Homo sapiens: one gene and its partners. The protein of the gene in region 1 interacts with the protein of each later gene in a biochemical or structural test. Each region holds a gene or a part of one and is shown in the gene's direction. Other genes may lie near its edges.

What was found.
Region 2: the proteins of GRB14 (region 1) and DAPK3 form a complex in vitro, tested with the Homo sapiens proteins (one study listed by BioGRID).
Region 3: the proteins of GRB14 (region 1) and MET form a complex in vitro, tested with the Homo sapiens proteins (one large-scale study listed by BioGRID and IntAct).

The regions. Positions count from the first base shown.
Region 1 is NC_000002.12:164,495,919-164,499,571, reverse strand, and holds part of GRB14 (growth factor receptor-bound protein 14), read left to right. Parts: intron 1-2,081; coding exon 2,082-2,198; intron 2,199-2,288; coding exon 2,289-2,361; intron 2,362-2,476; coding exon 2,477-2,564; intron 2,565-3,653. UniProt on the Homo sapiens protein: Adapter protein which modulates coupling of cell surface receptor kinases with specific signaling pathways. Binds to, and suppresses signals from, the activated insulin receptor (INSR). Potent inhibitor of insulin-stimulated MAPK3 phosphorylation.
Region 2 is NC_000019.10:3,964,570-3,968,222, reverse strand, and holds part of DAPK3 (death-associated protein kinase 3), read left to right. Parts: intron 1-3,231; coding exon 3,232-3,592; intron 3,593-3,653. UniProt on the Homo sapiens protein: Serine/threonine kinase which is involved in the regulation of apoptosis, autophagy, transcription, translation and actin cytoskeleton reorganization. Involved in the regulation of smooth muscle contraction.
Region 3 is NC_000007.14:116,678,655-116,682,307, forward strand, and holds part of MET (hepatocyte growth factor receptor isoform b preproprotein), read left to right. Parts: intron 1-3,653. UniProt on the Homo sapiens protein: Receptor tyrosine kinase that transduces signals from the extracellular matrix into the cytoplasm by binding to hepatocyte growth factor/HGF ligand. Regulates many physiological processes including proliferation, scattering, morphogenesis and survival.

The DNA.
Region 1 (3,653 bases):
AAAAGGGGAGAAGTGTTGGAGAAATATAACCAATTCTGAATGTTATCAACATTGCTTTTCTATGTGAAAGAAATTGATCTGAAAATGACCTTTTGAGTTTGTCAGACTCTGCTTTACTTCCATTTTTTTGTCCACCAATGGTAAACTATTAATTTTCTATCTACCACCTGCCATTCAGTAGAAGACATTTGCTATAGTCCTGTGTTTTCCGTTAATCTAGTTAATGTAGCAAATGAAAACGTTCCTTATTTGTAGTGTCGTCTTCTTATGTATGTCAAGTAAATAGGGAACACAGGATCTTGTTTTATTTCCTGGCCTGCTATACTAGAGGGAGAAAAATAGGACAGCTGATTATTTTTTTCTTAATATAATGGTATTTTTATGTTGCCAGGGAGTTGAGATTACAGAACCTACCTTGGCATGTAAACGGAGAGATATTATAAGGATAAAGCTATTATGATTGAGGAAGCTTACTCTGTGGTTTGGGCAGGTGGATGCTTTTCATTAATGTCAGCAAAGCACAAGTATATCTGACTGGTCTACAGACCTGCACAGAAGATCACGGGGTGAGAAGGGCAAACTAAGGTGTGACAGCAAATAGAGATTACAGAGACAGCATCTGTGTGGAAAGAGCAGCTGTCAGTTATAAAGGCTCCTGTAACAAATGAAAGATTGCATGCCAGATCTTTAGAAATATAGATGAACCATAATAAGATTGTAGGCCACTACAGCATAGTTTGAAGAGAAAATTACAAATGCTAATAAAGTGGGATATGTTGAAGCAGTGATAAAGGAGTCCTATAGTTATCTGTGGATAAGGTTTTGTTTGAAGCCTACATTTGACTATAGTCTATGCAACCAAGCCAGGTATAGCTGAATCTACATAAAGAGAGATAAAATGCTTTTAAGCCAGGGGGCCCCAGATGCAGGCTGGCTAGTAGTTTACTATTATAACACCACTTTGGGTTTTGCTCTTCTATTAATTAGTAGAAAATAACTGTTATTTTCCATGGGTGTTTTAAAATTTTTCTTTTGGAGAATTTTAATTCCTTCTTGATGTTGTATGAACTTATGAACTGAGTGGGATTCTTGACTAGAGATTTTGACAATGGTCTTTCTTAGGATTCATGACTTGTTGTGGGGTGGCATATTTGTTAAAAGATGGTTGTAAAGTAGAGCCCCAAACAAACAAAAAAGAAAAAGAAGATCGGGTTTTGCATATTTTACTTTCAACTCAAAGAATATAAATACAAGAAGTAGTTAGCAAAAACAATGACTTTATCATTTGTTTAAACTAAGTTTCTTTAAAGTTGCCTTCTATCAGTTCTTATTCAGGCTTATTTTTGCAGCCCTCATGTGGCCAAGTGTATTCTCACAAGATGAAAATGTATTCATATGTTAAATCATGGAAATTTTAAGGTTATGGAATTATCAGGATTATTCTTTCACTAAATTTTATTTTCTAAGTAAGATGAAAGTTGATGTGATAAACTTTTAAAATACATATTCTAGTTTGCTCCATTATAAAACTCATTAAAAATAATGAGTATTATTTCTCAAGAGATATATGTCAATCTAAGTTATAACTTTTGGGTATCTTGAATCTTAAAAACTAGTTGCTTCATAAGTAGATGGATTTGACATTTAATTGATGACTGACGGATCTCAAAGCTTAATGGAGACATCAATTCAGAAACAATGTATCTTTTTAACCAGAGGAAGAGCTATTCCTTTCTAAATGGAAGTTTTCCCATTTTACTAGAGAACGTGAAAAGATAAGTTTGTTTTAGAAGAAAGACATACTTTAAAAGCTTTTAATCTGTTTATTCAACTCTTCAATTACCTTAACAAATTACTATTTAGCTTTTTTAACAAAAATATTTTTAGCACCTTTATATCTTGAATATGTATTTTCACTTTAAATATTCTGCTAGCCCCTTCAGGCACCACCTTCTAGAATGGAAATGTACTGCCAGAAAAACACTGAGAGAAAAACACTGAAATTGAAAAACACTTTCAATTTATTTGAAAGATAACTTTCAAAGAAATTTTCATAACTCAAATGTGTTTCTTTTTTCCAGAGAAGTATATCAGAGAATTCCCTGGTAGCAATGGACTTCTCAGGCCAGAAAAGCAGAGTTATAGAAAATCCCACTGAAGCCCTTTCAGTTGCGGTTGAAGAAGGACTCGCTTGGAGGGTACAAGTAGCTTCACATGCTTCAAAATATTTATGATTTCAGTTTGTTTCACCTAAAAACTTGAGATTTGTTTTCTCCTTCCTTGCTCAGAAAAAAGGATGTTTACGCCTGGGCACTCACGGTAGCCCCACTGCCTCTTCACAGAGCTCTGCCACAAACATGGGTATGTCTGTTCATAGTCATTGCCACTGAGTAGACGGATAGACATGGAAAGGACATGTAATGAAATTGCAGTCATCTCAAACAAAGCTTTGCATTCATCCATCCTATTTCTTTAGCTATCCACCGGTCCCAGCCATGGTTTCACCACAAAATTTCTAGAGATGAGGCTCAGCGATTGATTATTCAGCAAGGACTTGTGGATGGGTAAGTTTGGTATTTTTAATTTTGAGTACTTGTGAATTGGATTTCTCCTATAAGCAGAAATTATTTATTCCATAGCCACAAAGAGTTCTTGATTTGGGCTTATCATAAAACAGAAGTGACATTGTTCTATAAATGAGGTCATCACTGTATTCTAACAGTATCTATATTATACCTGGTACATAGTGTGTGTCTGGTATTTGTATATAAATGGACAAATAACGGAATAGAGTATCTTGTTCTTAACCAGTGATCACTAATATTACCCATTATGTCCTGATTCTAGCATCTCAGATATCAATTGATGGGGGAAAATGAACTTCTTTTTAAGTGTCAATATTTTGATTTGAACATATGATTTCGAAGTATGGTTTATATTATGACATTATGTCAAATGTATTTTTTTAGGTATGATGCAACATGTATTAAGTAAAAAGCTGTTTCTTAAGTGTTTTGAACACTTATTTTTTTGTGTGTTTACATCCCTATTGTCCTTTCTCTAAATTTTAACATCTTAAAGTAATATAGATCCGTGAAAAGAGTACCTTTCAACTGTTTCTCATGTTGTCTTTTAGTGGGGTACCATGGAATACAAAAGAGAAATATAAAATGTATTATGAAAGATTTATAATGTGAAGAATTTTATTTTTCTCAAATTACTCAGTGTTTCAGATACTTTCTATAATACTGGCTGAATTCCCTTTCCAAATGCAGTACAAATGAGGGAGGTTGTATTGTGGTTTAGATGAGTAATGAAATCATTATCAATTTAAACAAGTGGTGATGGGATCTTTTATCTTCAAAAGTTGGCTAATCATGTCATTATCATGACAAGATTTCAAGGTGATTTAATACTGAAATTTGGATAACAATGCTTCTTCACATGGAAGATTATTAATAGGAAGTCAGCATTTCCCCAGACTGTAAATAAGATATTTTAATACGTTTCTTTGCATGGAATGCAGTCTTTTTGGAAATAAATTTGAACAATCAGTAGAATTACAATCTGATGAAACCAAGAAAATAAATGAGTCACAAAGAATTATTAAAATGTTTTGAAAGATTGTAATTTTCTTTATTTCTGAGCCCAGT
Region 2 (3,653 bases), on another chromosome or scaffold:
GCACCCCGCTGGGAACAGCAGCCTCTTAAATGGCCTTCCCCAAACCACTGCATCAGGGCTGGAATAGGATGCAGCTTGTAAAAAGAACCAGGCAGGGCCAGGTGCGGCGGCTTCCGCCTGTAATTCTAGCGCTTTGGGAGGCCAAGGCGGGAGGATCGCTTGAGCCCAGGACTTCAAGACTAGCCTGGGCAACATAAGTTGACCCCCATCTCTCAAACAAACAGAAATTCATAATTTTAAAAAAAGTATTTAGCCTTCTGTTTTTGCCGTGAAGCCTTGGAGGTCTGGTGTGTATTTCATGTCGCAGTTTTTCTCGGGACTGGCCACACCTCACGGGTTTGACAGCTCTGGGTGGCCAGTGTCTGCTGTTCTGACGGCACTGCTTCAGGTAGTGGTCTGGAACATTCTCAGAGATACATGAAGTGCAAGATGAAGGCCCAGAATGTAGCAATTTTTGTTTGTTTGTTTGAGACGGTGTCTGGCTCTGTTGCCGAGACTGGAGTGCAGTGGTGCCATCTTGGCTCACTGCAATCTTCGCCTCCCGGGTTCAAGTGATTCTCCTGCTTCAGCCTTCCAAGTAGCTGGAATTACAGGCGCCCACCAACGTGCTCAGCTAATTTTTGTATTTTTAGTAGAGACGGGGTTTTGCCATGTTGGCCAGGCTGGTCTTGAACTCCTGACCTCAAATGATCTGCCCGCCTCTGCCTCCCAAAGTGCTGGGATTACAGGTGTGAGCCACTGTGCCTGGCCCCAGCCCACACTTTTTTTTTGAGACGGAGTCTTGCAGTGTCGCCCGGGCTGGAGTGCAATGCCGCAATCTCAGCTCACTGCAACCTCCGTCTCCCAGGTTCAAGCGATTCTCCTTGCCTCAGCCTCCCGAGTAGCTGGGATTATAGATGCCTGCCAGCACGCCCGGCTAATGTTTTTGTATTTTTAGTAGAGACGTGGCTTTCACTATGTTGGTCAGGCTAGTCTTGAACTCCTGACATCGTGATCTGCACGCTTTTGCCTCCCAAAGTGCTGGGATTACAGGCGTGAGCCACTGTGCCCGGCTTCCCAGCCCGCATTTTTAAACATCATGAACTCTATCAGTAGAAATTGTCGGTGTGTAGGCCACGCTTGGGTCGTGTCTGGGTTGTGGCAGGCACTTAGGAAGTGGGTTGGGAGTGACACCTGAGACCATCACTGAGGAGGGCTTGCTGTGCCCCCACCTGCGCTGGGGGCTGGGGAAGTTACAGAGAAGCGAAGAGGGTGGGCTCAGCTCTTGGGGAGTTTCTTTCCCGGCTGGGGAGATGAGGCACGTTTCACATTCCGTAGAGGAACTGAGAGCCTGCCAGTGGCCTTGCCTCTAAGGAGCAAGTCTGTGGCCAGTGAGACCGGGGGCTGTCTGGAGGTGGGCGGCTGTGGTCTGCTGTTGCTGTAGGAGGACTCAGTGGCAGAACCTGAAATCTGGTTGGCAATAGCAAAACAGGGAAAGGCGTGGTTTACAGAACCAGGTTGTCCAGGTGTGCAGCGGCCGCAGGTGTGACTGGGTGCTGGTGCATATGGTGCCCTGTGTCCCCGGGGCCGAAGTCCACTCCAGCATGGAGGAGGCGCCCTGGCAGAGTGAATGACGGGGCTTATGTGCCACCCGCAGTGCCTGGTGGCTCCCCTCTCCTGGCCTGGTCTGTTCTTAGGCAGGCTTCTTAGGTAGCCTTCTACGTGGTGGCCCCTGCCGCGAGCCTGGATCCAAGCCCAGCAGAGGGAGAGAGAGATCCTCTCTTCCCAGCAGGCGTTCAGAGCCCTGTGGACTGGACCGGTCTCTTTGGGCTGGAAGGCGTGGTTTTCTGCTTGCCCAGGTCCAGTCGTGTCCCCTTCCACCCCTTTCCTGGGCCACTGAGTCCCACAGACTGAGAGTGAGCGGCAAAGGCTGCCCTGGGACAGCTGGGTCTGTTAGCAGGAGACAGCGTGGAGCCGGGAGGTAGGCACGCAGGAACCCGGTACCCAGCAGCAGCTGTCTGCTTCCTGTTAGAGCACCTGGGCTCTGGAGCCTGCAGCACCTGGTTTGAAGGTTTGAATCCTCCCGCCACTGACTGACTGCATGACCTTGGGCTAGTTGCTTTCCTTTTCTCAGCCTTGGTTTCTTTAAAATGCGGATACTGGCCAGATGTAGCGGCTCCACCTGTACTGCCAACACTTGGGGTGGGGGAGTGGGAGGATCTCTTGAGGCCAGGAGTTCCAAAGCAGCCTGGGCAATACGGCAAGACCCTGTCTCTACAAAAAATAAATAAATCAGGTGTGGTAGTGTGTTCCTGTAGTCCCACCTACTTGGGAGGGATCACTTGAGCCCAGGAGTTCGAGACCAGCGTGGGCAACATAGTGAGACCTCATCCTTACAAAAAGAAAAAAAAATTAATTGGGTGTGGTGGTATGTGCCTGTAGTCCCAGCTGCTTGAGAGGCTGAGGCAGGAGGATTGCCCGAGCCCAGGAGGTCAAGGCTGCAGTGAGCCATGACTGAACCACTGCATTCCAGCCTGAGCAACAGGGCCAGACCCTGTCTCAAGACAAAACAAAACAAAAACAAAAAAAGCGGATCTGGCACTTGCCTTGCACTTTTTATTTTTTTGAGGCAGGATCTTGCTACGTTGCCCAGGCTGGAGTACAGTGGCACAATCTCAGTTCACTGCAACCTCTGCCTCCCAGGTTCAAGCGATTCTCCTGCCTCAGCCTCCCAAGTAGCTGGGATTACAGGCACCCGCCACCACACCCAGCTAATTTTTTGTATTTTTGGTAGAGACAGGGTTTCACCATGTTGGCCAGGCTGCTCTTGAACTCCTCAGCTCAAGTTATCTGCCCTCCTCGAACTCCCAAAGTGCTGGGATTACAGGCGTGAGCCACCGCGCCTGGCCCCCTCAGTTCCCTCTTGATATGCATTGAACTGTTCATTCTTTCACTTTTCAAAAATACGCCGGTGCCATGGTGTTAACGTGTGGCTCTGCACTCCCCTCCACACACCTGCTGGGCATAGCCCTGGGAGGGGTGGGAACGCCGCGTCTGATGGTGTGGGGCGCTAAGGAATTGCTCTCTGAGAAGGCGCAGAGTCTGCACCCCCGCAGTGGCCAGCTCATGTCCTTCAAGTGCCTGGTGCAGGGCCGCGCCCAAGAGGAGCAAGTGGAGGTGACGGGGAGCCAGCCACCCCCACTTACTCCCTCCGCCTCCTCCACCCCCACTCACTCCCTCCCCCTCCTCCAGCGGCCAGTTTGCGATCGTGCGGAAGTGCCGGCAGAAGGGCACGGGCAAGGAGTACGCAGCCAAGTTCATCAAGAAGCGCCGCCTGTCATCCAGCCGGCGTGGGGTGAGCCGGGAGGAGATCGAGCGGGAGGTGAACATCCTGCGGGAGATCCGGCACCCCAACATCATCACCCTGCACGACATCTTCGAGAACAAGACGGACGTGGTCCTCATCCTGGAGCTGGTCTCTGGCGGGGAGCTCTTTGACTTCCTGGCGGAGAAGGAGTCGCTGACGGAGGACGAGGCCACCCAGTTCCTCAAGCAGATCCTGGACGGCGTTCACTACCTGCACTCTAAGCGCATCGCACACTTTGACCTGAAGGTGAGCCCTGTAGGGCCCTGTGGGGCCGGCCTGGCCAGTGTGGGGGTGGGGATGGGGCGGG
Region 3 (3,653 bases), on another chromosome or scaffold:
AAGGTTTGGGTCCATAAGACAATTCAACCTAGCTTTAAAAATAGGTTTTGGCTTTGCTTGGGACCAGCATTGGGACCAGAGTGTATCTAGACCAGCATTTTAGCTATTAAATTTTAAACCTAGGGGTCTTTTAAGGGAAATTTAATCCATGTGTCTTTGATTCACTAAATCTTAAATCATTACTCACAAACTGTATGTCCCTCTAAGCTCTTTGATGTCCAAGAGATCTCTAAAATTGTGTAAGGCCTTTTTGTTCCAGAAAAAAATAGGAAGTTGGTTTTTGCTAAGCGTCAATAAACAGCATCCTCAAAAATCTGATTAGGTCTAAAATCTTGCAACCATGACAGTATGGATGTTTGAATGATGCAATGTGAAAATTTTAAGCACTTTTTAAAGTCCTTGTTTACCAGTAATACTCAGTTGTAATCCTTACTAACCCCAAGGAAATTATTTTGACACATTTCCTCTCTGTTTTGTAATATAAATACAAAGCCCAAATATTCATCATTTTATTCTGGCACATAGTAGGTACTCAGTAAGTATTTTGTAGAGTGTTGAATGACTCTTTCTTCTGCCCAGAAACTTCTAGCTAATGTCAGTTCTTCTATTCAATATTGATATCCATCTGTCATACCTTGGAATAAGATCTATTCTAAGTCAGTGACCTTGTTCGACAAATTTTTAAAATAAGCCATCTAACTAAATATATGACATTTATTGAAATTCATTTTGCACCATGAAGCAACTGCCTTGCAAAGAGTGCTGAAAATAGGAAGGAATTTCTAGACTAATTTGATTAAATATTCAGTTGTTGCCATATGCTTTCTGAAAATTGATTTTCCCCCTTTTACTATTCCTGTCATCCTTCCTCCCACCTTGACATGCTTACTGATTGAAAGCTATGCACAGAAAAAGGGCAGGTCGCTTGTATGTATAAGCAAGAGCAGCAAGTCCAAACAGGCTTAGAAAACGTAATGCTATAATCACGAGTTGTCATAATATAGGAGAGGGGAGAGAGGAATACTCAGCAATAAGAGTGGTGTTGGGTATTGCTCCAAATTACATGGATGACACATCTTTGAACTCTATTGTGTCGGGGGAAAACACCTTCTTGCTGTAGTTAGATTTCCTGTTTGTGAATGTGTATTTTCTGGTAACCAGACTTCCTATATGAATTTGACATAGCTTTAAGTGCATTTCAAATGACATGATTAAAGAATGGCTGCTTTGGAGACAGCAGCTCCTTCTCTCTTAAAGAAATAAACTATCATGCTAAAATATAGGCATTGAGATCTTTCTTGATACCATATTGTGAATTTCTAATGGCTCATCACATTTTTATCCTCAGAAAACCTTTCCTGGTGAAAAGCATGCTGTTTTAGTATCACATTTGGGGTGATGGAATTGGCAATTTCTTATATCTTGAGGGGGCGGGGGGGTAAAAGGAAAATTGTGTTAATAGGGTCTTAAAATAGAGATTCTCTTAGGTTAACCTGAAGATTTACTAAATACATTATCATTACAGCTTGTTTTGACATTTAATTGTAGATGGCACTGTATCAGCACTGACTTATTTATACAGCTTTGTTTAGACATGCCTAATTTTTATTTCATTGGTGGAACCAAACCATCAGTAATAAATCATATATCAGTGTTTTTGTACACATTCGTATTTACATGACTTTTAAAATTCCAATGTAAAGGTCTCACAACTTGAAAAATGAATGAATGCCTGAGTATTTGAACAGTTGGGAAAATGTAGTTCAATTTAAGAAAGATTTTTTATGACAATTCTTATGCCATATATAGAAAATAGATAATAAAGGAGAAGGCCTGGAGGTTTAGATGGGATATTGGATCAATGAGCAAAGGAAGGGGAAAGGTGGGCGGGATATGCTGAAGGGTCATGGGCTTGAGTGCACCCTAAGTCATAAAGAGGGTGTCCCATTAAGAATCAGGCTGCCTGAATTCTAAGTAGGAAAGAGGCAGGTCAAAATGGTGTATAGGCCAGGCACAGTGGCTCACGCTTGTAATCCCAGCACTTTAGGAGGCCAAGGTGGGTGGATGGCTTGAGCTCAGGAGTTTGAGACCAGCCTGGGCAACATAGCAAAACCCCCCTCTTAAAAAAATTACAAAAAGTAGCTGGACATGGTGGCGCACACTTGCAGTCCCAGCTACTCAGGAGGCTGAGGTGGGAGGATCACCTGAGCCTGGGAGGCCAAGGCTGTAGTGAGCCGAGATCATACCACTGCACTCCAGCATGGGTGACAAAGAGAGACCCTGTCTCAGAAAAAGTGGGGGAGGGAGGGTATGGAATAAAGTAAAGCTCATGGGAAAATGGTACCTTTACCATTTTCCCACCTTGGGAAATGGTGGGAAAATTTAGACATTGCTTTACAAAGTCTAAATTTCTGCCAACTTGTGTTACATGTGGTTTGATTCTGGAGAAAGATAGACTATCATCTATCCAGTCCTAAATTGGGCCTCTTAGTCTGTCCTCCCCTCAGTTACCAGGAAGAATAGCAGGAATATGTCACAGAAGCAGAGAAAGCTTTTATTCTGAGTGTCAGAGGCATGTTCTAAGCACTCTGTTATCTACTCCCAGGCACTCTAAATGAAATTCCATTTTCTCTGAGGAAATCAAAATATAAAAAGAAAACTCAGGCAAATTTATAAAGGTTTTACACCATTTTCATGACTGAAATATTCTAGCATATCTAGCTCATTATAATCTATAAATTCCTGTTGGGACCAAAAGTTATGGCCCTAAAACCTGTTATCTGTAATCCTTTTCCACTGGGATATTGTCTCTGGGGATATATATTAGCTTTCCTTGAGGATACTACCTTGAAACCATTTCTTTGGTCCTTGACTATACAAAGTTCATACTAGCATGGATGTAGGAATTGTATTTTTCTATTCTAAATACGAATTTAGACAGTGATATAAAGATTCAAGGAAAGCTTCTATCAAGGCCTGCCTTCACTACTTGTCTTTTGGCTCCTCTGAGGGTCTTAGGTGAGCCACTTTCATCTGATTCTGCCCTCACTTCAGGCAGAATTCATATGGCTCCAGCCAATGGCTACACTGTCCAAAGTGAGACTGTGGTCTCACAACCATCTGGTTAATACAAAGACAGCAAGCCAATATGATCACTTAGGACCTAGGCAAACCTTTGGGCTTAAAATATTACCTTAGCTATTGTTGTTTTTAATGAGTATCAAATAGTATGATATTTGTAATTTGTATTATGTAAAGAAGTAACCAAAGCAGAGATTGTTGACAAAAAAAAAAACTTCCTCCTAACATAAATGAATATGCATTTTGGACTTTTCAAAAATTCCCTTTCTGTCTTGTCAAAATTAAGATATTTCTAAATTTTATTTCGGTCTCACTAACACATACTTGGATTATTGTTCATTGAAATCTGTACGTCAAGGCCCAGTGATTTTAAACATTCTTTTGGTCTTCAAAGAACTTACCAAAAAAAAATTGTTCTTTAAATCACCAGAAAAGTGCAGATAAAATCCCAGACAGTTTCATTAATGACAATGAAAGGTGACAGCCCTTGAATCTATGTCATAAGTTGATTAATTACTTTCCAAACATTATTAAAGATATTAGACGAATAACTTAGACTGGTATCCAGGATC